Linked DNA regions of Homo sapiens. The protein of the gene in region 3 purifies or fractionates together with the protein of the main gene of each other region. This does not show direct contact. Each region holds a gene or a part of one and is shown on either strand. Other genes may lie near its edges.

The links.
Region 1: the proteins of ANKS1B (region 3) and ARHGAP26 purify together in Homo sapiens (affinity purification with mass spectrometry; one large-scale study listed by BioGRID and IntAct). This does not show direct contact.
Region 2: the proteins of ANKS1B (region 3) and DAB2IP purify together in Homo sapiens (affinity purification with mass spectrometry; one large-scale study listed by BioGRID and IntAct). This does not show direct contact.
Region 4: the proteins of ANKS1B (region 3) and RASAL2 purify together in Homo sapiens (affinity purification with mass spectrometry; one large-scale study listed by BioGRID and IntAct). This does not show direct contact.
Region 5: the proteins of ANKS1B (region 3) and RIN2 purify together in Homo sapiens (affinity purification with mass spectrometry; one large-scale study listed by BioGRID and IntAct). This does not show direct contact.

The regions. Positions count from the first base shown.
Region 1 is NC_000005.10:142,768,666-142,774,100, reverse strand, and holds the start of ARHGAP26 (rho GTPase-activating protein 26), read right to left. Parts: upstream 3,725-5,435; 5' UTR 3,340-3,724; coding exon 3,186-3,339; intron 2,875-3,185; exon of another isoform or gene 2,772-2,874; coding exon of another isoform or gene 2,726-2,771; intron 1-2,725. UniProt on the Homo sapiens protein: GTPase-activating protein for RHOA and CDC42. Facilitates mitochondrial quality control by promoting Parkin-mediated recruitment of autophagosomes to damaged mitochondria.
Region 2 is NC_000009.12:121,779,925-121,783,919, reverse strand, and holds part of DAB2IP (disabled homolog 2-interacting protein), read right to left. Parts: intron 2,457-3,995; coding exon 2,369-2,456; intron 1,590-2,368; coding exon 1,422-1,589; 3' UTR 385-1,421; coding exon of another isoform or gene 375-384; 3' UTR 1-374. UniProt on the Homo sapiens protein: Functions as a scaffold protein implicated in the regulation of a large spectrum of both general and specialized signaling pathways.
Region 3 is NC_000012.12:99,239,491-99,244,287, reverse strand, and holds part of ANKS1B (ankyrin repeat and sterile alpha motif domain-containing protein 1B), read left to right. Parts: intron 1-4,797. UniProt on the Homo sapiens protein: Isoform 2 may participate in the regulation of nucleoplasmic coilin protein interactions in neuronal and transformed cells. Isoform 3 can regulate global protein synthesis by altering nucleolar numbers.
Region 4 is NC_000001.11:178,096,441-178,101,237, reverse strand, and holds part of RASAL2 (ras GTPase-activating protein nGAP), read right to left. Parts: intron 1-4,797. UniProt on the Homo sapiens protein: Inhibitory regulator of the Ras-cyclic AMP pathway.
Region 5 is NC_000020.11:19,988,119-19,992,915, reverse strand, and holds part of RIN2 (ras and Rab interactor 2), read right to left. Parts: intron 2,911-4,797; coding exon 2,605-2,910; intron 749-2,604; coding exon 617-748; intron 1-616. UniProt on the Homo sapiens protein: Ras effector protein. May function as an upstream activator and/or downstream effector for RAB5B in endocytic pathway. May function as a guanine nucleotide exchange (GEF) of RAB5B, required for activating the RAB5 proteins by exchanging bound GDP for free GTP.

The DNA.
Region 1 (5,435 bases), on a different chromosome or scaffold from region 3:
ACCCAACTCCACATCCATTTGTTCCATTAGGATTTTCTGAGTAACATAATTACTCCTAAACAAAGCAGGTTGGCATCGAACATCCTTTGAGAGTTTATGCCATTCAAGAAGCGCTTATGTATTGCAAAATGCCCACGTTTAATTCTAACAAGTACAAAAGGGTGACAGGCTTTAAAGCATGTAACTCAGTGCTGACCTTTTTACTCTTGCTTTGAAAGGCAAAGAGGATGAACCACTTACTTACCTTACTGAATCACACCAAGAACAGGTTTTTGGCCTCTCTGTTCAATGCTATATTACTCAGTGAAAAGACAATCACTGATAATCATTCAGTGCTACCCCCAAAAGAAACTCTGCTGCTTTACAAAGCCAAGACATATTCAGCCACTCTCATCTGTCCCTCTAGCCTTCAAAGCCCGTGATGGAGAAAGAACTCCAAAACTTCAGAGGATAATACAAAATCTTAGCTGGTCTTTGCTACCCAGGGCTCGGAGTCTAAAAAACAACTGGCAATGTTTTCACTTAATCAAGCACCTGCTGCATGTTTCTCCTTTACGGGATCTAGATCTATAAAGAATTTGCATCTCCATTGCCAGCATCTCATTCATAAAGTGGAAGTAATAGTAACAATGATCTACCTGAACTTTGGCAATCCCTAGAGGACAGTTTTATTGCCTATGATTAACACTCAAAACCAAGTTAAATCCAAAGAGCTAGAAATACTAGTTATAAAATAACTGTAAAATAAAATAAAATATGGCTATAAAATAAAGCCACAAAAGTTTAGAGCTATAAGAGAACATAGATTATCTAAACCCAGTGTTTATATAATTATGTATTTATGTTTAAGTTGTACTGGGAAAACACTTCTGTTTATAGATATAATAAACATGACTGAAGAAAAATAATACACAAACATTAATATAGTAGTATACCACGCAGCAAGCATCTCATGATATCGGAATGTCTGAAATCCAGGACACAATGGTTGACTCCACCCTCTATTTTTAGAGGTCACCTGACCTGATCAAGTAGTAGTTAGTAGTGGTAGAATACATTAGCAGAGCTGGACGTAGAGAGAACAGAACACCGAGATCCCCATCAGTCTTTCCTCCAGATTACAGGGCTGATCCATTCCATTAGACAGCTTAAATAACACTTCAACTCTATCACTGCAATGTTTCTTCCTACCAAAGAATTCTTGCCCCCAAAAACTAGTGGTAGGAAAACTGCCAGTCACCCAAACGCACCCTCCTCAGATTCAATGCCAAAATAGAAAACACAAGTCCAAATTCTAGGGCTTGGTGCAAGAGGTTCCATTCCGGGCAAGTGAGATGGGGCAGAAGTCAAGAGCTCTGCACTGGCAGGGACTCCATCTCTGGCTCAAACCAGGTGGATTCAAAAGCTCTGGTCCTGCTGCTAGAGCTGTGTGACTCAGAGGTAATGCTTCCCCCAGTCTCTGTTTTCTCATTTGCAGAATGAATCTAAGCACATGAGATAATTATATGTGAAGCAGTGCCTGGAATGAAGTACACCTCTGTAAGCACAGGAGCAGCAAAATATTCACTCCTACACCCTTAGTGCCCAGTGCAGTACCCAGTACACCACAATCACACCAAAAGTTTGCTGAGTGAAGCAGAGAACTCACTAAAGCCAGCCTGAGGTTCAATCAAAATTCCTGGGCCCAACCTGTAAGTGGGCCCCTAACTTACTCCAAACCAGGGACCCCCATCCCCTAAACCAAGAATGGCCTTGATTATTGACAAAGGAAGGGTCTGTTCATATGTTTCAGGTAAGGCACAGCCTAAGAATCTGCCTCTAAGAAGCCTCATCACATCACAGTCCTGTGTTCATTTCATCCCAAAAGATTGGCACTTTGGGCTGCCCTGGCATTCCATTGTCTCTCTCTTCATTTTTAGAAGCAACAAGCTGACAAAATGACATCTCAGGCACCTGACTTTTGTAAGTGCCCTTTAAAGAGGCCTGGGAACAATTCCCACAGCTACGACTCTACTCTGCTAAGGCAAGATTTCTTAGCTGAAAGGTATCACCTACTAAGAAATCCATCACAGAAACAGATACAGTAACAGAGTCAGAGACAATTCCACTATCTGCCTTCATGTGGTTCCTGATTCTTAAAACTAAAAGATGGACTGAGCTATTTTTAAATGGGGAGACTGAAAAGGCACCAAAAACGTTCTCACAATCCAAAGCACTCATCCCTAGAGCACGCTTATTTGGCCAGAAAAAGAAACTCTCTGGCTCTGCAAAAGTGAAGCAGAATGCAAAATTGCATCTCTCCCCTTGTACCAAAAGGAAAAAACGCAAAAATGGTTTTACAAAAGGTCCAAGAATCTTTGAAATACGTTTGAACTTCTTTCTGAGAATTATGGATATTCCTTCTCAGACCTTTACAAGGATAACGGAAGAGGTAAAAAGGAGAGCTTGGGAGCAGGAGAGGGAGAGAGTTGGGATATGTACATTCTATTTTTAAACCCTCGCCCACAGTTTAGAGTAAAGGAACACTCTGATTCTCTACTCCCACCCCTATCACCTTCTGCTAAACACAAGAATCAGAACCTGCGCACGTACTGATTCCAGATTTAGAGATTACTGGCTGCCAATACTCCAAGGAATCGCAAGCTAACCAAGCATTCCACCCAGGGAACCCGGCGGCCTGACTAGGCTGGAGCTGCGTACAGGGAGCGAAGCAGTCACAACCCACCTTTTCCCAAGGGGAGGCAGCGCCCCCTCGGCAGGGCACGCTCCATTCTCACGGTTGGGCACTCAAGGCTGAGCAACTCTGCCCCTAAGGGAGCTGGAGCTGTGGACACGATGGGATCTGCCCGCTGGCTGCGGCGCGCTCGGCACTCTGGCCCCACTGCTGGGACACCTGCGTGCCGCGCACGCCCACGCCCACCCGCGCTGCCCCAGAGCACCACCCGCGCTGGGTCACCTCCCGACCATCCCTGAACGCAAAAGGCGGAGCGACGGGTCTCTCTCTTCATCTGATGGTTGCTGGTTCGCCCGCTTTACGTATCCTTCCTGCCTCGGAGGCGTCGACACCCGTCCCCCAGTGTACCGGGAGCAGAAACCCGGCAGACGCGCGGGCAACCCGGGCTAAGCGCCACCTCCCAGTTCCTCCCGCCCCGGAGCCGCGTCCCCGAGGGGCTCGGGACACTCACTCTTGAGCGCGCTTATGAGTGACTTCCCGTCCTTGATGAGCTCCTTGATGAATTTGTTGGTCTTGTCCAGCTCTGCTTCGTGCGACTTGAGCGTCTCTCGGAAGTGCGGACTATCGAGGCAGCAGTCGCTGAACTCGAGCGCTGGGAGCCCCATGGTGCGCGCGGCGCCCAGCCGGGGGGCGCGCCTCCGCCGGGGCCCGGGCCGCCCGCCGCCCAGAGCACTCACGCGGCGGGACCCCGGCCGGCTCCCCCGACGGCCGCCGGCTCCACAGGTGTGGCGCTGGCTCACTCCGCGCGCGGTGTCCGCCGGCGCGCAAGACTCCCGAACCGAGCTCGGACCCGGCCGAGGTGCTGCTGTTCCGGGCGCGGGCAACGGAGCGGATCGCGAGCAGGAAACGCAGCGCGGACCCGCAGCGGCGCCGGGAAGCGAGCGAGCGGGCGAGCGAGTGCAGACGCCGCCTCCCCGCCTCCTTCGCTAGCTAGCTCTCGGCAGCCTCGAGCGCCCTCTCACAGCAGCCTCGGCCGCCCCGCCGGTGTCTGGGCCGCTCGAACCTGCTAGCGATGACTTAATCCCCGCCGGGCCAATCAGCGCACCCTCCCCTGCCCGACCCTCAGGCCGCCCGAGGACGCCCGGCCCTTCCGCGGTCTTGATCCAATCAAAGGGGCCTGGAGGCAGGGTCTGCGGCTGGGGGCGTGGCCCTCGCCAACGCCTAGGTCCGCAGCGCAAACTCCGCCTCCTCTTGCCCTCCCAGCGTTGCAGACCCCGAAACCTAGGGGTGAGCGTTGCTGTGCACCCGCCCCCGCTACCTTGCCCGCCTGCTCCAGCCCGAATCCGAGCCACGCATGGCGAGTCTGCTGGTCCTGGGGGCCGAAGAGCCTCGATGTGCCAAGCATGAAAAACCTGGGGACTAGGGCTGCAGTTCACCACCGCCTGCCCTGCACTGCGGGGCAACCGATTTTACACTCAAAATACAGCCCCCTGCTCCGGGAGAATCCCGAGCGACCAAACGCTCCTCTTCCAGTCAGGCAGAAAAATGTTATTTGCATCTTAAAATTACCAGCTCTTGCCTGCAGTCTTCCCGCCCCCTACGGTCCGTCCCCCTCACGGCCACTCCTGCTCAGAACCCGCCCACGGTTCCCCTCAGCCGAAGGAGCTCACATCATTACTAGAATTTCAGCCGCCTGTTATTTTCCTGCTCTGCATCTAGCACAATTTTACATAATAAGATGACAGTCTACTGCCTGTCATCCTTCGCTACACGGTAAGCCCCACGAGGGCAAGTGCCCCTGCAATTTTCTTGTCCGCTGTTGCATCCTGGCACCTAGCACAGTGGCTGGCATTTAATAACAGATATTGAGCACTTACTATGTGCTGTGTGTGCTACGGTGATTGATAAATGTAGAATAAATGAATGGATCCTTTCCCAGAGCCATCTCCACCTCCCACGCCCAGTGCGTTGCCCTGTAGTCCCTCTGTTCGACCGCAGGACTCAATTCTGGCATCTCACTCGTTGCACTTGTCAGGCTGGGTCCCACAGGGTGTCTAGTGCTGAATTGTTAACTCCTGGAGGATAGGGACTGTCCTTGAATAAATTATCTCTATGTCTAGGAACCAGCAGCCCTCCTTCAGCTACGTGGGGGCTTCATGTTTGTTTGGGTTGGTTTGTTTTTTAAATAGGTCTGCTATGTGCAGGCACTAGCCTAGATGGTAAGAATACAAAGATGAATAACAGAATGAATTTAGCTGCTGGTGGTATTAGGTGAGATGGAAGCAAACAAGCGATAACCATGCCTTGTGATAGGATAGAAGGCCTGGGTGCTTGGGAACATGGATTTTTCACTCAGGAGGGGTCAGAGGTGTCCCATCTATATTAAGAAAGCAATTAATGTATTAAATTCATAAATGGAGCATGGTGGCTCACACCTGTAATCCATAACTTTTGGAGGCCAGGTGAGAGGATTGCTTGGGGTCAAGAGTTCAAGACCATCTTGGGCAACACAGCGAGACCCCCCCCATCTCTACAAAAAATTGTAAAATAAATAAGTAAATGTATAAATAAGTGAATGTGATCTCTTTGATAGGTGTATCTACAAATTTAGACTTGATAGCAGGTCCAGACAGCTATCTGATAGATAATTACAACCCAAAAACAATTGTTCTTCACTTGCCAAAGATGAGAAAGATCTAGAATGGAAACCCTATGAAAGTAAATCTGTTTAATGCTTTATCTTGAGCACCTAAAGGTAGGT
Region 2 (3,995 bases), on a different chromosome or scaffold from region 3:
CTTCTTACCCAGGGCCTTTGCTCAGAATCTGCAGGGGCTGGGAACAGACAGGGGCCGAGAGAGACCCAAGCTCCTGCTCATCTGTCTTGAAAGTGGGGGAGGGGCAGATAAGCTACAGAACAGCCTAGAGCTGAGGAAAACCGGCCCCAGCTGTGGGGTGCGCCCCTCCCCTGTATGCAGCGCCTGGGTCCTTGGCCGGGGGCCGGGAAGGGTGAGGAGGAGGCCGGCCACACACACGGGGCAGGTGCAGGCTGCTGCTGTCTTGGAGAGGGAGCAAGTCTAACATCCTCCAGGGCCGCTATTTCCCATGCAGTGCGCACGCTCAACTTAAAAGGCCCCTGTGTTCCAGCAAGCGAGCAAGCGGGCTTTTGTTTCTAATGCATACTGTGAAAGGAAAAAAAATCACAGTTATCCACCTTCTCAGGGCCTGCAGGCGTTAGAATCTTTTTTTAAACCATCACTCAGAGGAAGGATCACCTTTTCTTTCAGGGTGAGCACCAGGTGGCACTCCCTACAGGACCACTGTGCCCTGGGTGTGCTGGGCCCCAGGAGAAGGCAGATACAGTGCTCAGAGCCATCTGGCCAGATCCGCCCAGATCTCTGGCTTCTGGGAGCCCTAGAGCATCAGCCTGGGCCTGTGTGGGAGGTGTGGGAAGCTGTGGGTCCTCCCCACAGGGACAAGAGCTCACAAGAAAAAGCCATGGCCCTCACTGGGTCTATCTGGCAATACAACTAAGGCAGGGAAGAAGGTAGCAGGTGGTGCTCTGGGGACAGGTTCAGAGGGGGTGGGTGGGTAGGAATCCTCAGTTCCTCACAGCCAGGAAGGTCCCAACAGGCTGCATGCAGTGGCAGGTGCTTCGGATGGAGACAGGCAGGGGACACTGACCTCCTGCTCTGTGTCCTCCTATCTTCCTGCCTGCCAACTGATCTGCCAAGTGCCAGGTCCCACATGACAGGGCCTGGCTGCCAGGGAGTCCCGGGCCCCCCAAGGAGGCGAGGGGAAGCCACAGGTGTAGGCCCCTAGCCCTTGAATCCCCCCTCCAGGAAGCCCCCTCCCTGGCACAGGTGTGGGGGGACACATGCACTCGGCCAGATCCAGGAGGACAAGGACACACCACATTCAGGAACCAACAGACATATTTTTGGCAGGCCCCCTGCCCCATCAGGCTGTCCCCACTCCCCAGCGTGCAGTCTCTTCTGCCCGCACCCCACAGGGAGCGGCTGGTGACCTCGCCTCACGCTGCTTCAGTCTCTGGTGGCTCCCTCTGCGGCCGCCTCCTGGACAGCGGCAGGGAGGGGAGGCTCGGCCTCCTGACACCCGCGCTGGGGCTGCAACCGTGGGTGCCTCCCCAGGCCGAGACCCTGCCCTTGGCCACCATAGTCCCCCTCTCCTTGGGTAGCTTCCTCCCTCCTCAGGCAGGTTAACAATTGCTGCTGTTTCTGAACTCGCCGTTCTCAGTAATCTGCAATTTGGTGGGGTTGGTGGGGGAGATGCCGTTACGGGCTTGCATGCTGTACCTCTCTTTCAGCTGGGTCAGGGCACTCATGAGGCGGGCATTGGCGGCATCCAACGAGGCAATGCGCTTCTCCTGTGGACAATGGGGATGTGAGCGGGGGTCATGGGACAGGCTCCTTAGGGCTGTGTATACCTACGACAAGCATCGGGGAAGGGGGTGGCCTGGAGATGAGGGTGGCAGGCAGGCTCCGGGCTGTGAGCAGCTGGCAAGAGAAGGTAGGCAGAGGCCTCTGCAGCATCATGGACACAGCCTCGCTGCCTGCTTATCAGCCCAAATGCAGCAGCTCTAGTGCTGTCTATGGGCTGCCTGCGGCCCCTAGGGCAGGCACCCTTGCTCACATGTGTGTGCATGACACACCAGAGGTCACAGCTCCTGGTCTGTGCAGTTTACAGCCTGAGCAAGGCCCAGCCTACTCCTGGGTGAGTGAAAGGAAAGCGGTGCAGCCCTGAGTAAAGGAGGCTGGGGCCACAGAGCCTTTCACGTCTCCCCTCAATGCAGCCCGGATGCCATAGTTGTGAACGAGAGCCCCACTGCTCCCTCTGACCAGCCTGCCTTCACTCCTACCCCCACTGCCCTCCTGGTGGCTTCCACTCTTTGGTCAGCAGTCCTGGTGAAAGACAATGCCCGCCAAGAGCCCTGGCAGGGGAGGAGCTGCCTCTCTCCTTTCACAGCCTGTCCTAGTGAGCTTGTGGCCCACTAAGACCACAGGTCTGACTTCTCAGGGCAGATTCTGGTTTCTTATTCCCCTCAGTGTCTGCAGTGAGGTATGACTGAGGATGGAGAGGCTAGTCACCCCTCCTAATCCCAGGCCCTTTAACTCTTGTGGCTGACCAAAGGGCCGGAGCCCCCACCTGGGCATCAATGATCTTCTGTTTGGAGTCCACAGCCGCTTGCATCTCTGCGTGGTCCTTCTTCAGTTCTTCCTCCACGGACATCAACCTATAGCCAGAGACAGAGACAGTCAGACTGGCCCTGGAGGCAGCAGAGGTGGGGAGGGTGTGAGAACAAGCCCATCACCCCCGCACACAGCAGGGACACACTAGGAGAGCCCCTCCTTGGGTCAGAGACTTGCCTCCCATACTTGCCTGGGGCAGAGGCCCTCCAGCCGACTCCCAGCAACTGACACTGCTGGGCCTCCTTCCTCACCTCCACATCCCACACTCGCTGCTCCTAAAGCCCCAGAGGCCCCCGGGCTGCCCCTTTCCCGATGTTCTTCCAGGAGCCAAGATGGGTGGAAATGGGCATTAGATCTTCAAACCCCTAGAGCTAGGCAGGTGGTGGAAAGACGAAGGCCCTGAAAGGCTCTAGAACTTTTTCCACCCTGCCCCCGCCATCTTCACAAAGTTGTACGCGAGGTGCCAAGATGAATGAACTCTAGTCCTTTCCCTCAAGGAGTTCACAAGGCAGGAGGCACGAGTAACTAACTACACCCTGCACGGAGCAGCTGCGCTAGTGGAAAGCTCAGGTCCCTGGAACAAAGAGCAGGAAGCAGTGACGTTCCCTGGAGGGTGGGCTGGGAGGTCGCACATCAGTAGGAGACATCTGAAGGACAGGTGTGCAGGCAGAACAATGAGCAGTAGCTGGGGGACATACCACCCGCGGAAGCTCAGTGGGCAGGAGGCCGGCTCCGTCCTGCTGCTCCCTGCCTGGGAGCCCTCCTGGCCCCACCTGGCTGGTTCCTGAGACACTCTCACTGCTGGGCACTCCCACCTTCCCACTCTCCTTTGGCTTTGAGACCCCACACTCTCTGGGTCTGCCTGTCTCCTAGATGCCTTGTCCTGTCTGCCTCTGGACATGGGGGTCCACAGGGCTTTGGCCTCAGCCTCCCTTCTCCTTGCTCCACACACTCTTAGATGAGCCCTCCACTCCCAAGGCTTCTCTCCATCCCTGCCCTCTTGATTCCTCCAGCCTAGAGCAGCCACCGCACACTGGGCAAGCACTTAGCCCACTCACAGAAGACACACAGGGAGCCACTGTGCCGGGGCCGGTTCTGCACGGGACTGTAATGGGGGCAGCAGGGCAGCAGTTCAGGGAGCACTAACTGGGAGGAGCGGTGGTGGCGGGGGGGACCCTCCGGGGCAGGTTCCCCAGTACAGGAAGGTATCACTCTGAGGAAAGCTTGTGCTGGGGGTGGGGTGGCAGGAGGGTATTTGTTTTATTAAGGAAAATTAGATTGGAAGGAGATTGTATTTACTCTCTTGTCTTAAAAACAAATAGGGCCGGGCACATTGGCTCACGCCTATAATCTCAGCACTTTGGGAGGCCAGGGAGGGAGGATCACTTGAGACTAGGAGTTCAAGACCAGCCTGGGTAACATGGCGAGACCCCATCTCTTTATTAAAAACCAACCAAACAAACAAACCAGAAAAATGGACACAATACAGGCAATGCAGTACAATAATTTCTAGGAGAACAGAAACCAACAAGGAGAGCCCAGTGAACGGCCTGGAAGCAGAGGGAAGGCGGAGTCAGCAGCCT
Region 3 (4,797 bases):
GAAAATGATAGGAATCTTTAGATAATTGCATTTTTTTCATTATAACAATAACTACAAATTATTTCCTTCCACTCTCAGATCTAACAACAATGACATATAAGCAACATCAGTTATAAGAATATTGACTTAGCAAATTGAGAGGATTTTTTCCCATGTGCTATTTTACTATGCCAGTGAAGTTTTTCTTTTTTTTTTTTAGAATTTTTTAATAATACTTTTAATTTAAATATATTTCAAACTCTCTGTTGGTTGTAAGTCTTTTTTTTATTATTATACTTTAAGTGCTAGGGTACATGTGCACAATGTGCAGGTTTGTTACATAGGTATACATGTGCCATGTTGGTTTGCTGCACCCATCAACTCGTCATTTACATTAGGTATTTCTCCTAATGCTATCCCTCCCCCAGCTCCCCACCCCGCAAGAGGCCCTTGCATGTGATGTTCCCCACCCTGTGTCCATGTGTTCTCATTGTTCACTTATGAGTGAGAACATGTGGTGTTTGGTTTTCTGTCCTTGTGACAGTTTGCTGAGAATGATGGTTTCCTGCTTCATCCATGTCCCTGCAAAGGACATGAGCTCATCCTTTTAATGGCTGCATAGTATTCCATGGTGTATATGTGCCACATTTTCTTAATCCAGTCTATCACTGGTGGACATTTGGGTTGGTTCCAAGTCTTTGCTATTGTGAATAGTGCCACAATAAACATACGTGTGCATGTGTCTTCATAGTAACATGATTTATGATCCTTTAGGTATATACCCAGTAATGGGATGGCTGGGTCAAATGGTATTTCTAGTTCTAGATCCTTGAGGAATCGCCACACTGTCTTCCACAATGGTTGAACTAATTTATGCTCCCACAAACAGTGTAAAAGCATTCCTATTTCTCCACGTCCTCTCCAGCATCTGTTGTTTCCTGACTTTTTAATGATCGCCATTCTAACTGGCTTGAGATGGTATCTCACTGTGGTTTTGATTTGCATTTCTCTGATGACCAGTGAGGATGAGCATTTTTTCATGTGTCTGTTGGCTAGATAGATGTCTTCTTTTGAGAAGTGTCTGTTCATAACCTTTGCCCACTTTTTGATGGGATTATTTGTTTTTCTCTTGTAAATTTGTTTAAGTTCTTTGTAGATTTTGGATATTAACCCTTTGTCAGATGGGTAGATTGCAAAAATTTTCTCGCATTCTGTAGGTTGCCTTTTCTTTTGCTGTGTGGAATCTCTTTAGTTTAATTAGATCCCATTTGTCTATTCTGGCTTTTGTTGCCATTGCTTTTGGTGTTTTAGTCATGAAGTCTTTGCCCATGCCTATGTCCTGAATGGTATTGCCTAGGTTTTCTTCTAGGATTTTTATGGTGTTAGGTCTTACATTAAAGTCATTAAGCCATCTTGAGTTAATTTTTGTATATGGTGTGAGGAAGGGATCCAGTTTCAGCTTTCTACATATGGCTAGCCAGTTTTCCCAGCACCATTTATTAAATAGGGAATCCTTTCCCCATTGCTTGTTTTTGTCAGGTTTGTTGAAGATCAGATGGTTGTAGATGTGTGTTGTTATATCTGAGGCCTCTGTTCTGTTCCATTGGTCTATATATCTGTTTTGGTACCAGAATCATGCTGTTTTGTTTACTGTAGCCTTGTAGAATAATTTGAAGTCAGATAGCATGATGCCTCCTGGTTTGTTCTTTTTGCTTAGGATTGTCTTGGCTCCACAGGCTCTTTTTTGGTTCCATATGAATTGTAAAGTAGTTTTTCCAATTCTGTGAAGAAAGTCAGTGGCAACTTGATGGGGATAGCATTGAATCTATAAATTACCTTGGGTGGTGTGGCCATTTTCACGATATTGATTCTTCTTATCCATGAGCATGGAATGTTCTTCCATTTGTTTGTGTCCTCTTTTATTTCATTGAGCAGTGGTTTGTAGTTCTGGTTAAAGAGGTCCTTCACATCCCTTGTAAATTGGATTCCTAGGTATTTTATTCTCTTTGTAGTAATTGTGAATGGGAGTTCACTCATGTTTTGACTTTCTGTTTGTCTATTATTGGTGTATAGGAATGCTTGTGATTTTTGCAGATTGATTTTGTATCCTGAGATTTTGCTGAAGTTGCTTATCAGCTTAAGGAGATTTTGGGCTAAAATGATTGGGTTTTCTAAATATACAATCATATCATCTGCAAACAGAGACAATTTGACTTCCTCTTTTTCTAATTGATTTATGTCATTCTCTTGCCTGATTGCTCTGGCCAGAACTTCCAACACTATTTTGAATAGGAGTGGTGAGAGAGGGCATCCCTGTCTTTCGCCGGTTTTCAAAGGGAATGCTTCCAGTTTTTGCCCGTTCAGTATGATATTGGCTGTGGGTTTGTCATAAATAGCTCTTATTATTTTGAGATACATTCCATCAATACCTAGTTTATTGAGAGTTTTTAGCATGAAGGGCTGTTGAATTTTGTCAAAGGCCTTTTCTGCATCTACTGAGATAATCATGTCCTTTTTGTTGTTGGTTCTGTTTATGTGATGGATTACATTTATTGATTTGTGTATGTTGAACCAACCTGGCCTCCCAGGGATGAAGCCAATCTGATCGTGGTGGATAAGCTTCTTGATGTGCTGCTGGATTCAGTTTGCTAGTATTTTACTGAGGATTTTCACATCAATGTTCATCAGGGATATTGGCATAAAATTCTCTTTTGTTGTTGTGTCTCTGCCAGGCTTTGGTATCAAGATGATGCTGGCCTCATAAAATGAGTTAGGGAGGATTCCCTCTTTTTCTATTGATTGGAAAAGTTTCAGAAGGAATGGTACCAGTTCCTCTTTGTACCTCTGGTAGAACTCGGCTGTGAATTTGTCTTGTCCTGGACTTTTTTTAGTTGGTAGGCTATTTATTATTGCCTCAATTTCAGAACCTGTTATTGGTCTATTCAGAGATTCAACTTCTTCCTGGTTTAGTCTTGGGAAGGTGTATGTGTCCAGGAATTTACCCATTTCTTCTAGATTTTCTACTTCATTTGCGTAGAGGTGTTTATAGTATTCTCTGATGGTAGTTTGTATTTCTGTGGGATTGGTGGTGATATCCCCTTTATCATTTTTTATTGCATCTGTTTGATTCTTCTCTCTTTTCTTCTTTATTAGTCTTGCTAGTGGTATATCAATTTTGTTGATCTTTTCAAAAAACCAGCTCCTGGATTCATTGATTTTGTGAAGGATTTTTTGTGTCTCTATCTCCTTCAATTCTGCTCTGATCTTAATTATTTCTTGTCTTCTGCTAGCTTTTGAATTTGTTTGCTCTTGTTTCTCTAGTTCTTTTAATTGTGATGTTAGCGTGTCAATTTTAGATCTTTCCTGCTTTCTCTTGTGGGCATTTAGTGCTATAAGTTTCCCTCTACACGCTGCTTTAAATGTATCCCAGAGATTCTGGTACAATGTGTCTTTGTTCTCATTGGTTTCAAAGAACATCTTTATTTCTGCCTTCATTTTGTTATTTACCCAGTAGTCACTCAGGAGCAGGTTGTTCAGTTTCCACGTAGTTGAGCAGTTTTGAGTGAATTTCTTAATCCTGAGTTCTAATTTGATTGCACTGTGGTTTTAGAGACGGTTTGTTATGATTTCTGCTCTTTTACATTTGCTGAGGAGTGTTTTACTTCTAACTATGTGGTCAATTTTAGAATAAGTGGGATGTGGTGCTGAGAAGATTTGGGGTATGCAGTTCTGTAGATGTCTATTATGTCCGCTTGGTCCAGAGCTGAGTTCAAGTCCTGGATATCCTTGTTAACTTTCTCTCTTATTGATCTGTCTAATATTGGCAGTGGGGTGTTAAAGTCTATCATTATTATTGTATGGGAGTCTATGTCTCTTTGTCGGTCTCTAAGGACTTGCTTTATGATTCTGGTTACTCCTGTATTGGGTGCCTATATATTTAGGATAGTTAGCTCTTCTTGTTGAATTGATCCGTTTACCATTATATAGTGGCCTTCTTTGTCTCTTTTGATCTTGTTGGTTTAAAATCTGTTTTATCAGAGACTAGGATTGCAATCCGTGCTTTTTTTTGTTTTCCATTTGCTTGGTAGATCTTCCTCCATCCCTTTATTTTGAGCCTATGTGTGTCTCTGCATGTGAGATGTGTCTCCTGAATACAGCACACTGATGGGTCTTGGCTCTTTATCCAATTTTCCAGTCTGTGTCTTTTAATAGGGACATTTAGCCTATTTACATTTAAGGTTAATATTGTTATCTTTGAATTTGACCCTATCATTATGTTAGCTGGTTATTTTGCCTGTTAATTCCACAGTTTCCTCATAGCGTTGATGGTCTTTACAATTTGGCATGTTTTTGCAGTGGCTGGTACCGGTTGTTCCTTTCCATGTTTAGTGCTTTCTTCAGGAGCTCTTGTAAGGTAGGCCTGGTGGTGACAAAATCTCTCAGCATTTGCTTGTCTGTAAAGGATTTTATTTCTCCTTCATTTATGAAGCATAATTTGGCTGGATATGAGATTCTGGGTTGAAAATTCTTTTCTTTAAGAATGTTGAATATCGGCCCCCACTCTCTTCTTGCTTGTAATGTTTCTGCCAAGAGATCCACTGTTAGTCTAATGGGCTTCCCTTTGTGGGTAACCCAACCTTTCTCTCTGGCTGCCCTTAACATTTTTTCCTTCATTTCAACCTTGTTGAATCTGATGATTATGTGTCTTGGGGTTGCTCTTCTTGAGGAGTATCTTTGTGGTGTTCTCTGTATTTCCTGAATTTGAATGTTGGCCTGCCTTGCTAGATTCGGGAAGTTCTCCTAGATAATATCCTGAAG
Region 4 (4,797 bases), on a different chromosome or scaffold from region 3:
ATGTTTTTATGCCTTTAAGGGTTCAATTTTTATTTCTTTTGTTTACTGTATACTCACTAACACCACTGCACTGGGCCTCAAGACTTCTCTTTTCCCTTCTACTTGTGAACCACATTACTTCTTGATGGGCTGCCCTCTCACTATAAAATAAACTACATGAAATTTGCAAAAGGGTTTTCTACATGCTAGCCTTAAGAAGTACTTGACAGCCTTTGGGAAGAAAGGTGTTTTTACAAACATCAGACAGCAATTATCCCTCTACCAAGATAGGGTGAAGCAATTTTAGCAGTGCCCTTAGCACACTTCAAACTCCTCCTCCTGGTTAACAAGACCAAACAACTCTCTAGTTAGTTAAAAGTTTTTCCAATAGGGAGGGACAAGGGAGCAAACAGCTGAAGTTTTTCTGAATTAACTGTCATTAGTTGAATGCTTTTTTGTGGTTCACCTACTTAAAAGGTGATCAAATCACTTTGTGCTACTGAAGAAAGCAACTGCAAAGAACAATTACATAAACCCTCTATTTCAACTTACCTCATCCTTCCTTCTAATGAAACAAAGGATCCGAAACCACTACCTTGCCACCATTTCCTTAATAATCTTGGTAAAGCCTACTATGTCATGTGAATCTCTTTTCTTTTTCTTAGCAAACCACAGAAATTTCACTCACTATAGTAGGAAACACAACTGTACAACTTTTTTTTTTTTTTTTTATTTGAGACTGAGTCTCGCTCTGTTGCCCAGGCTGGAGTGCAGTGGCACGATCTCAGCTAGCTGCAACCTCTCCCTCCTGGGCTCAAGCGATTCTCGTGCCTCAGCATCCCGAGTAGCTGGGATTACAGATGTGCCACCATGCCCTGCTAATTTTTTTTTTTTTTTGTATTTATAGTAGAGACAAGGTTTCACCATGTTGGCCAGGCTGGTCTCAAACTCCTTACCTCAGGTGATCCGCCCACCTTGGCCTCCTAAAGTGCTGGAATTATGGGCATAAGCCACCGCGCCCGGCCCATTTTTAAAAATGTGTTCAGTAAATGTTATTATCTGAAAAAGATAAAGGATATCCACACAAACTATTCTTAAAGAGGGGTGTTCTAGAACTTTGTATTATTTATGTCTGAAGATTTGTACAGATCCTCAATTCCATATCTGCAATTCCTAAATCAAAAAAGCTCTGAAAAGCAAAAGACTGTATGCAACTTTTCTGGCAGTAAAGTCTGACCTGCACTGACATAAGGCTATTTATAGTCTTTATACCACTTGGTATGATTTTGTTTTTTTTTTGAGATAGTCTCACTCTGTCACCCAGGCTGCAGTGCAACGGTGGAATCACAGCTCACTGCAATCTCCCCCTCCCTGGTTCAAGCGATTCTCCTGCCTCAGCCTCCCAAGTAGCTGGGATTACAGGTGCATGCCACCACACCCGGCTAATTTCTTTGTACTTTAGTAGAAACGGGGTTTCACCATGTTGGCCAGGCTGGTCTTGAACTCCTGACCTCAAGTGATCCACCTGCCTCGGCCTCCCAAAGTGCTGGGATTACAGGCGTGAGCCACCACGCCCGGCCTATTCACTTGTTTAACTGCAGAAATATTAACATAACTGTCTAGTCCAAATGGTTTTGGAAAAGAGATTGTGGATGTATAATTCTATTCCTTAAAAATATTTTCACTGTTTGAAAATCAAATAGCAGTGAACCAACATGATAGAGGGTAGAACAATACTAAGATGTTATAAATGAAACTATCACCTACATTAATAGAGCACACAATTTAAATAAGACATACAAATTTTCTCTCAAAAGAAGAAAAAAGGGGGCTATTTAAAGTCACTTAAACAGTACATGCCTAGGCATTCTTAGAAGTTCTCTCTGATTTCAATGAAAAACTGTCTATTCTTAATGTGTTTTAATGTATTTGGAAATCATTGGAAACTAATACATCAACAAGCCTATGCCACATCCTAAGTATTGAACTCAAGCTTAAGATTCCAAAAATTTCTAAAATATGACTACTCAGGTGTAAAGATTCAATTAACAGTACCTGAGGAAATTAAGACATTTAAGGAACATGAACATGTTTGGGGATGTATTTTATACACACTCACTGATTTTCTTCTAGCCATACTAGTTGCAACATTTTAAATAAATTTAGAGACATAACCTCTAGAAACGTAACTTTTAAAAATCTCATCCTGTGTCTTAATTGGTGAGGCGTAAGCAGTATCATATAATACAACCAGATATGACTTCTGTCTCATCAGCTCATATTCACTTCTTGAATATGAACTTCTATTAATTCTTACCGAATTCCCACTGCCACATTTCTGGAATTATAAGGTACTTAATGAAGTATGATTAATTCCCTTTTTCTTCTGTTTGCTTAAATAGTACTAGCCCTTTGAAATTTTCCAGCAGGTCCCTATGTTGTTATCAATAAACAATGAGCTGTATACAAGCTTAATGGTAATAATGTTGATGCTATTCATTTTCTTAACAGAATATTTTACCTAATTCCTTCTGATAATATTAAAATTTAAAAGTACAAGATTTCTTGTTGATCCCTTTCTTGTGCTGATTATATTTCCCTTCTAACTCTCCAAGAGCATATCTGAGCACATACTTGCAGACCTGTCATACTGATGAGTGCAGAGCTCCACCGCAGGCAATCCTAGAGATTGGGATCTTAAATTTCTCCCAGAGTGTCCTACACTCCCCATCCATTCATGGTAAAGTATTTAATTTTAATGTTCTCATTGTTTACCAGAAAGCACAGACAGTGAGGCTGGCTTTGCCACTCCCGTTTCCTTTCGCTATGCTGCTGAGCTTTTTCAGCCAATTGACTTTGCTTTGAGGCTATAAATATCTGAAAAATGTTCTGCATTTGATGCTCTTGGATTCTGTATCCATATTTAGCTGTTTGTGGCATGCCTTTGTTTAAGCTACTCTACCACCCATACAGTCAGTCAGGTTGAGATCTGGATGGTCAAAGGACAAACGGATCAACATACAACAGACACTGACTTACTATGAGCAAGGTACCAATCTGGCAGACAAGTTGACAATGAAGGGGGTGGCAAGATAAGAATACAAAGATAAACAAGGCTCCCTGATATCAAAAATTTTATAGTCTTGACAAGGCATGGGCACAACTTATAATACTGGAATAAAACAAATGAAACATTTTACAACTACAAGGAAATGAAGATTAGGACAGACAGCACAAATATTTTTCTCTCAGCCACATCTCAAAAATGTGCATTAGTTTGTGTTCTAAATATAGAGCCACCTATTATAAAGCTCTGAACATATTCCAGAAAAGTTTTCCAAATCATGGCAATACACAAAACCCTGAGTATACGTATTATGACAATATATACATATGTACACAATATATATGTATTATCAACCAAGGAGCCAAACCTGTCAACAAGAAACTCAAAACAGTGCCTAGTCTTCAAATTTTGTGAGGCAAACTAATAAAATATTGTTTCTAGAAGTTCCTGTTAAGATATTCTTTGGGGGGTTACTTCTGTTGTTGTTTGTTCCCATCATGATTTCAAACAGAAGTATATTGCAGGAGATGCAAATTGCACTTAATAAAGTTCCTTATTATTATCCTACCTTTAGAACCCACATGGCTATGTAGGTTAGGTCTCAAAACTGGATGAACTAGACCTAAGCAACATCGCCATACTCATCTTCCTATCTTGTGAAAACATTCCAAATAAATAAACATCTGCCTTCAATATATCTTCTTTGAAAACTCAGTTCACTGACCTTTTGATAAAACTGCTCCCCAGAATTCCCTGACAATCATGATTTAAATGCATTAAGTTAAGGGCTTGGTTAATGCCTGGCCCCAAGAGCCAGGATAAAGATTATAGGCCAACCTGCAGGTAAAATAATGGGCCAAGCCACAGAATCAGACAACTTTAAAGCTAAAAGGGACCACAGATACCAATTACTCCAGATTCCACTTTTATGCTGAAACCTAGAGGCCATGAGTTAAAACTACCTGCCCAGAATTAGACAACCAACTTGTGGCAAAGCCAGAATGAAACCAATACTCTAAGCTTCTAGTTGTATCCTCTAGACTAGGTTCCCAATTTGTAGATTTCCCTGAAACATGTTAGACTACACTCATCAAAGTCTCTTTAAATTGTGAGAAGAACCTAGGTGATCCAAGACAACGAAGGTTTTGAACACACAGACAAGAAACAAGAAAAACAAAAATTCTGTATTCTCCAAATTGTTTTTCTACATTCTATTACTTTTATTTCAAAGTTTTTACTTCAAAGTTTTCAAACATACACCCTGTTCATACAATAGGCAACTTAAAACTAGCTAAGGACATAGCCAAGAGTCATTCCAATAGTTCTGAAATATTTACATAAACTAAAGACAACAAAATAGTATCCAGGATGAGCTGCCTCAGAGGAAGGAAAGTAGCAATACTAAACAATAAATAAAAACAACTTCTGGTTAATTGATAGAGAAAACAAAAAAAGTTACAATGCAGTGGTAAGTCTGCAATTGGTCACAAAAATGCAAGGCATGGTATGTATATGTGTGTGTCACACACATATACATACCATGCATTTCTGTGATGTCTGATATGAAGTCTTGACATCAATTGAACCACGCAGAAAGAAAACTTCTAAGTCGTGGTCACTCTTGAACAATAAACATATATCCTGTTCAGAAGGACGAAAGAAAAAAAACATAATGTAAACTTGCTCTCACTCTCTCTCTCTCTTACACACACACACACACACACACAAAATATACAATATATATTTCACAA
Region 5 (4,797 bases), on a different chromosome or scaffold from region 3:
CTGGAAAAAAATTAATACTGTTTTCACCTTGAAAACGAAATTTTAAAAAATAAAAACAAAGCCAAGCTTTTATCCATTTCACTAATATAAGAGCAGGTTATTTTCCTGGCAATGGAAATATCCTCAACAAAAGTTTATAATTTCCTCTTGGAGCCAAAGAAACCATTTCTTCCAAAAAAAATGGCATTTATTCTACTGAATGTATTTTTTTTATTGCCATTAAGCAATCTTAGTGAAGTATAGTTAAGATGGGGTTATATTTTTTCTTTGTGTTTTTCCTGACTTTTCCAAATTTTCTACCACGAGTGTGTATTACTTTTGCAATCAGAAAAAGGTTAGTACACTCTTTTAAATTAATAAAAAATTCAGTTAACACTTAAGATGTCAAAAAAGCACCCAAGTAACTGCTTCATGGGTGCAGAATTTTATTTTAGGGTGAGGAAAATAGTTTGACACTAAATAAAGGTGGAGAATGCATGACATTGTGAATATACTAAATGCCACTGAATTATTCACTGTAAAATGATTAATGTTATGTGACATGAATTTCGTCTCAATTATAAAAAAATGAAAAAAATAGCACCCAGTTCCTTCAACTTTTCTCAAAAGCAGTTACCTTCTCCATGTAACAGCGATGGGTCTAGGAGCTCCATCATGTACTCGATTTCAGTGTCCAATTCAAGCATGTCACACTGGGCTATGACATAGGTCAGGACTGGCAAGAAGTCATCAGCGCCATACATCCTCCCTGAGAGCAGGAAGAGAAGGAGATGGAATATTTTTACCAACTTTTCTTTCTTTCACATCCTTCTTGCTGCTTTTATTAGACAGCAAGGAGTCACTCTGGGGGGAACTGTGCTATTTATAAACAGAGGTGAGTGTTTCTGGAATCCTATGTAGCCTCTGACCCTCCCAGCTGCTAATGTTAGAGACCAGCCCTTACAGTTTCAGAATGAATGTCTATGAACCAATGAACACATTACAGATTTTCTCCCTACTTTTATAATTTGTATAAAATTATGTGATAGAACAGAATACTCGTTAAAATATTTTAACTTTCAGCAAACAAGATTATAAAATGCTTACAAAATATTTACTTATGCTAATTCTTTGTGTCTTACTTCCTCTTTCTTGCTGTGCACATTATTTACAAACATAATGACAAGGTCAAACTCAAACCAGGAATAAGCTAACTTTGCTCTGTATTTAATGTGAGCACACAGTTAATTTCTTTAAACGTGCCAATTCAGTACATGTTGAATATACACATTGATTAATGGAAATATATGGCAAAAAATGTTAGTGTTTACTTCTAGTTTTCTTTACATCAGTGGTTCTCAACTGGAGATAATTTTGTCCCCCAGGGGACATTTGGCACTGTCTGAAGACATTTTTCATTGACATAACTGGAGGGTGGGGATGCAGATGACATCTGGAATGCTGCTAAACTTCCTACAGGAAGCAGGGCAGCCCCCAAAAGAAGAATTATCCTGTCTACATTAATGTCTTTAGTGTGTGTGTTGAGGAACTGTGCTTCAGAAGAGCATAATCCTTCTGAATTATTTGGGGAATTCAGATATTCAGATATTATTTGGGGAATTTTTATAAATAACTGTGAACTATAGAAAATATGTTTCCTATATGTGAAATATGCTTGCAAACTTGTGAGGTGATGTTCACTTGCTATCATTACCACGCCCAGGAGCTCATATTTTAACTTCTTCACTCAACAATTCCCAAAGTGCACACACATTCCTGTCTACTCAAGCAGTGGTTAATACAGCCTGTGTTTTCTCTCTGCTGCTTCTCCATTAAGCAATTTCACTCAGAAGAAAAGTTCGTAATCGTCTTCAGAATTACAATAAGCTTACTGAAGACCTGGGACAATGCAGGGCTCCATTACTATCCAGGATTCATGGTTACCCCTGCATCTACAGGAAACAACAAGGCTAAATCTGAGGGCTGGCTTTCCAAGATTGTAACTCTTCGGTGAATTTCAATTATATTGCTTCAGCTTGTAGCAAAGAAGGGCTAGCCAATGAAGCGGCTCTAATGAGGCCTCATTATAACTGAATGTTCAGAGTTTCTTTCACATACTATAGGTCATTGACACAAACCCTCATTGGCCAAAATGTTGTAATGATAATCGCTGACATTTCCATTGCACTTGGGGCTATGTGTGGGCTGTCTCAGCTAATCCCCACCTCATGAAAGAAAGGGTGACATCCGGCTAAAGACGCAGAAAACTACAGCGTGCAAGGTTGATTAAGGGGGCCAAAGTCCCTCAGTTAATTTTCTTCTTCTCGGAGGGAAGATTTGAACTCAGACTCCAGAGACTGAATTTGTAACCATACTCTGAACTAAATCTTTAATTAAATCGGCCTGGTACAAAAATCTTGTTGCCCTCATCTGCTTACATTTTAATCTGTTGCATGTGACTAATGTGCCGGATATCAGAGAATCACTTGTAGTTCTGTAAGCCACTTGGTGAAATCAAGAGACCAAAGGGAGGAGAAATTGGGAATCAGAAAGCCTGACAGGAGAGAGGCCTGTCCCCGGCCCGGAAGGGAAGCGGCACGAAGCCTGGGCTTCCAGCGGCCTCACCTGAGTTGTTCTCCATGACCGTGTAAATGAGCTTGCAGACCCGCAGCAGCAGCATGACCTTCTTTTCCGGCGAATACATCTTCTGCATGGTCATGAACTTGACTTTGATTTTCTCCACATCCACAAAATCAGGGGTCGGGGCGAAGACCCCCAGCTCCTGCGGATTCCTCTGCCGCACAAGCTGCAGGTTCTCCTTGAGTTGCTTCCATGAGCCATCGGCCATGTGAAAGTCCTTCAGCATGGCCTCCACGTGCCCCTTGAGGGGCTTCAAGATGCACTTGTGCATGGCTTTTTCCAGCACCACATCTGCCAAAGAAAGTGTAGCTACTATGACTATTGTCTGAAGAAAGAAGAAATGCAACATCTGCTTTCTTACAATGGACATCTGCAACTCTATGCATTGGTTGCAGGCACACAAATTGTACACCTTAACATCCAACCAACAGACAACACCAAGCAGCGCCATAACTCACATGTTAACATTTTTCTCTGAAAAGCCAGGAAGACCGAATCTTCCCCAATGATGTCTAACTTGCATATAATCAATACAATGAAATATATTTGTTTTAATTACTTTCATGCCCTATCCCTGTAAGTACAGGCAAATATGCTAGAAGACATTCTTTTGACCTAGTCCTTCAACTGGTCATCCAATTAACAGGAGAGCAAAGATGTTATCTTAAAGGAAGGATTTTCTAATAATGAGCATTCAACATCTCTTAGAATATTTTCTGAGGGCCAGGCGTGGTAGCTCACATCTGTAATCCCAGCACTTTGGGAGGCTGAGGCAGGCAGATCATTTGAGGTCAAGAGTTGGAGACCAGCCTGATCAACATAGTGAAACCCCATCTCTACTAAAAATACAAAAAAATTAGCTGGGCATGGTGGTGCACGCTTGTAGTCCCAGCTACTGGGGAGGCTGAGGCAGGAGAATTGTTTGAACCCAAGAGGCAGAGGTTGCAGTGAGCCAAGATTGTGCCACTGCACTCCAACCTGGGTGACAGAGTGATACTCCATCTCAAAAAAAAAAAAAAAAAAAGAATGTTTTCTGAGGAAATAGATCCACCTAAATATAGTATGTGATCTTGGATCAGATTCTGGACTAAAAAATTCTTCATTTGCTATAAAGGACATTAGTGGGGCATCGAATACAGCCTGCAGATAAGGTAATAGTGCTAACAAGGCATCAGTGTTAATTTTCTAGGTCTGATAATTATACTGTAGTTATTAAACAGAATAGCCTTGTTTTTAGGAAATATGCATTGAAGTATTTAGGGGTAAAGGGATATAATGTCTGCAACTTAAATGGTTCAGAAAAAATGAGAGACAGTGTGTGTGCACGTATTTGTGTGCATGTATGTGTACGTGCATGTATCTGTGTGTGTGCACGCGTGTGTGTGTGTGTGTGTGAAGAGAGAGAAAGAAGAATGAGGCAGATGTGGCGAAGTGCTAACATTTGGGAATCTGAGTGAAGGGTAGATATTTCTTTATGATATTTTTGCAACTTTCCTGGAAATCTGAAATGATTTCAAAATTAAAAGTTAAAAATGTGTGAAATGTGTTTCTGTTCCGAGTTAGGAAACACCTTTGGGTGTGGGAGGCGTTATTCTTCCCTCCTTCATTGAATGGTTTCCCAGTGGAGTAGCTTTCTTGGCTAATACTAAAATGACCAGTACCATAAATCCAGAGATGCGGGCTGAAGGCTATTTATATAATAATAACTCCTCTGCTTTGTCAATAGCAGCTTTTTGACCTCACACGTTTGCACATTCTCATCTGAGCCCCTTGGGTTCTGCTGCAGCATCTACGCATAAAATGATGACACCTTAATTTTATTCCATTTGGGAAGCCAATGGGTCCACTTACATATAAGATCAGAAATAGTTAAGTTAGGCCAGGCATGGCGGCTCATGACTGTAATCCCAGCACTTTGGGAGGCTGGGGTGGGCAGATCACTTGAGGCCAGGGGTTCAAGACCAGCCTGGCCAACACAGCGAAATCCCATCACTACCAAAAATACAAAAAATTAGCTTGGCGTTGTGGCGCACACCTGTAATACCAACTACTCTGGAGGCTGGGGCATGAGAATCTCTTGAACCCTGGAGGCAAAGCTTGCAGTGAGCCGAGATCCTGCCACTGCACTCCAGCCTGAGTGACAGAATGAGACTCTGTCTCAAAAGAAAAAGCAAAAGA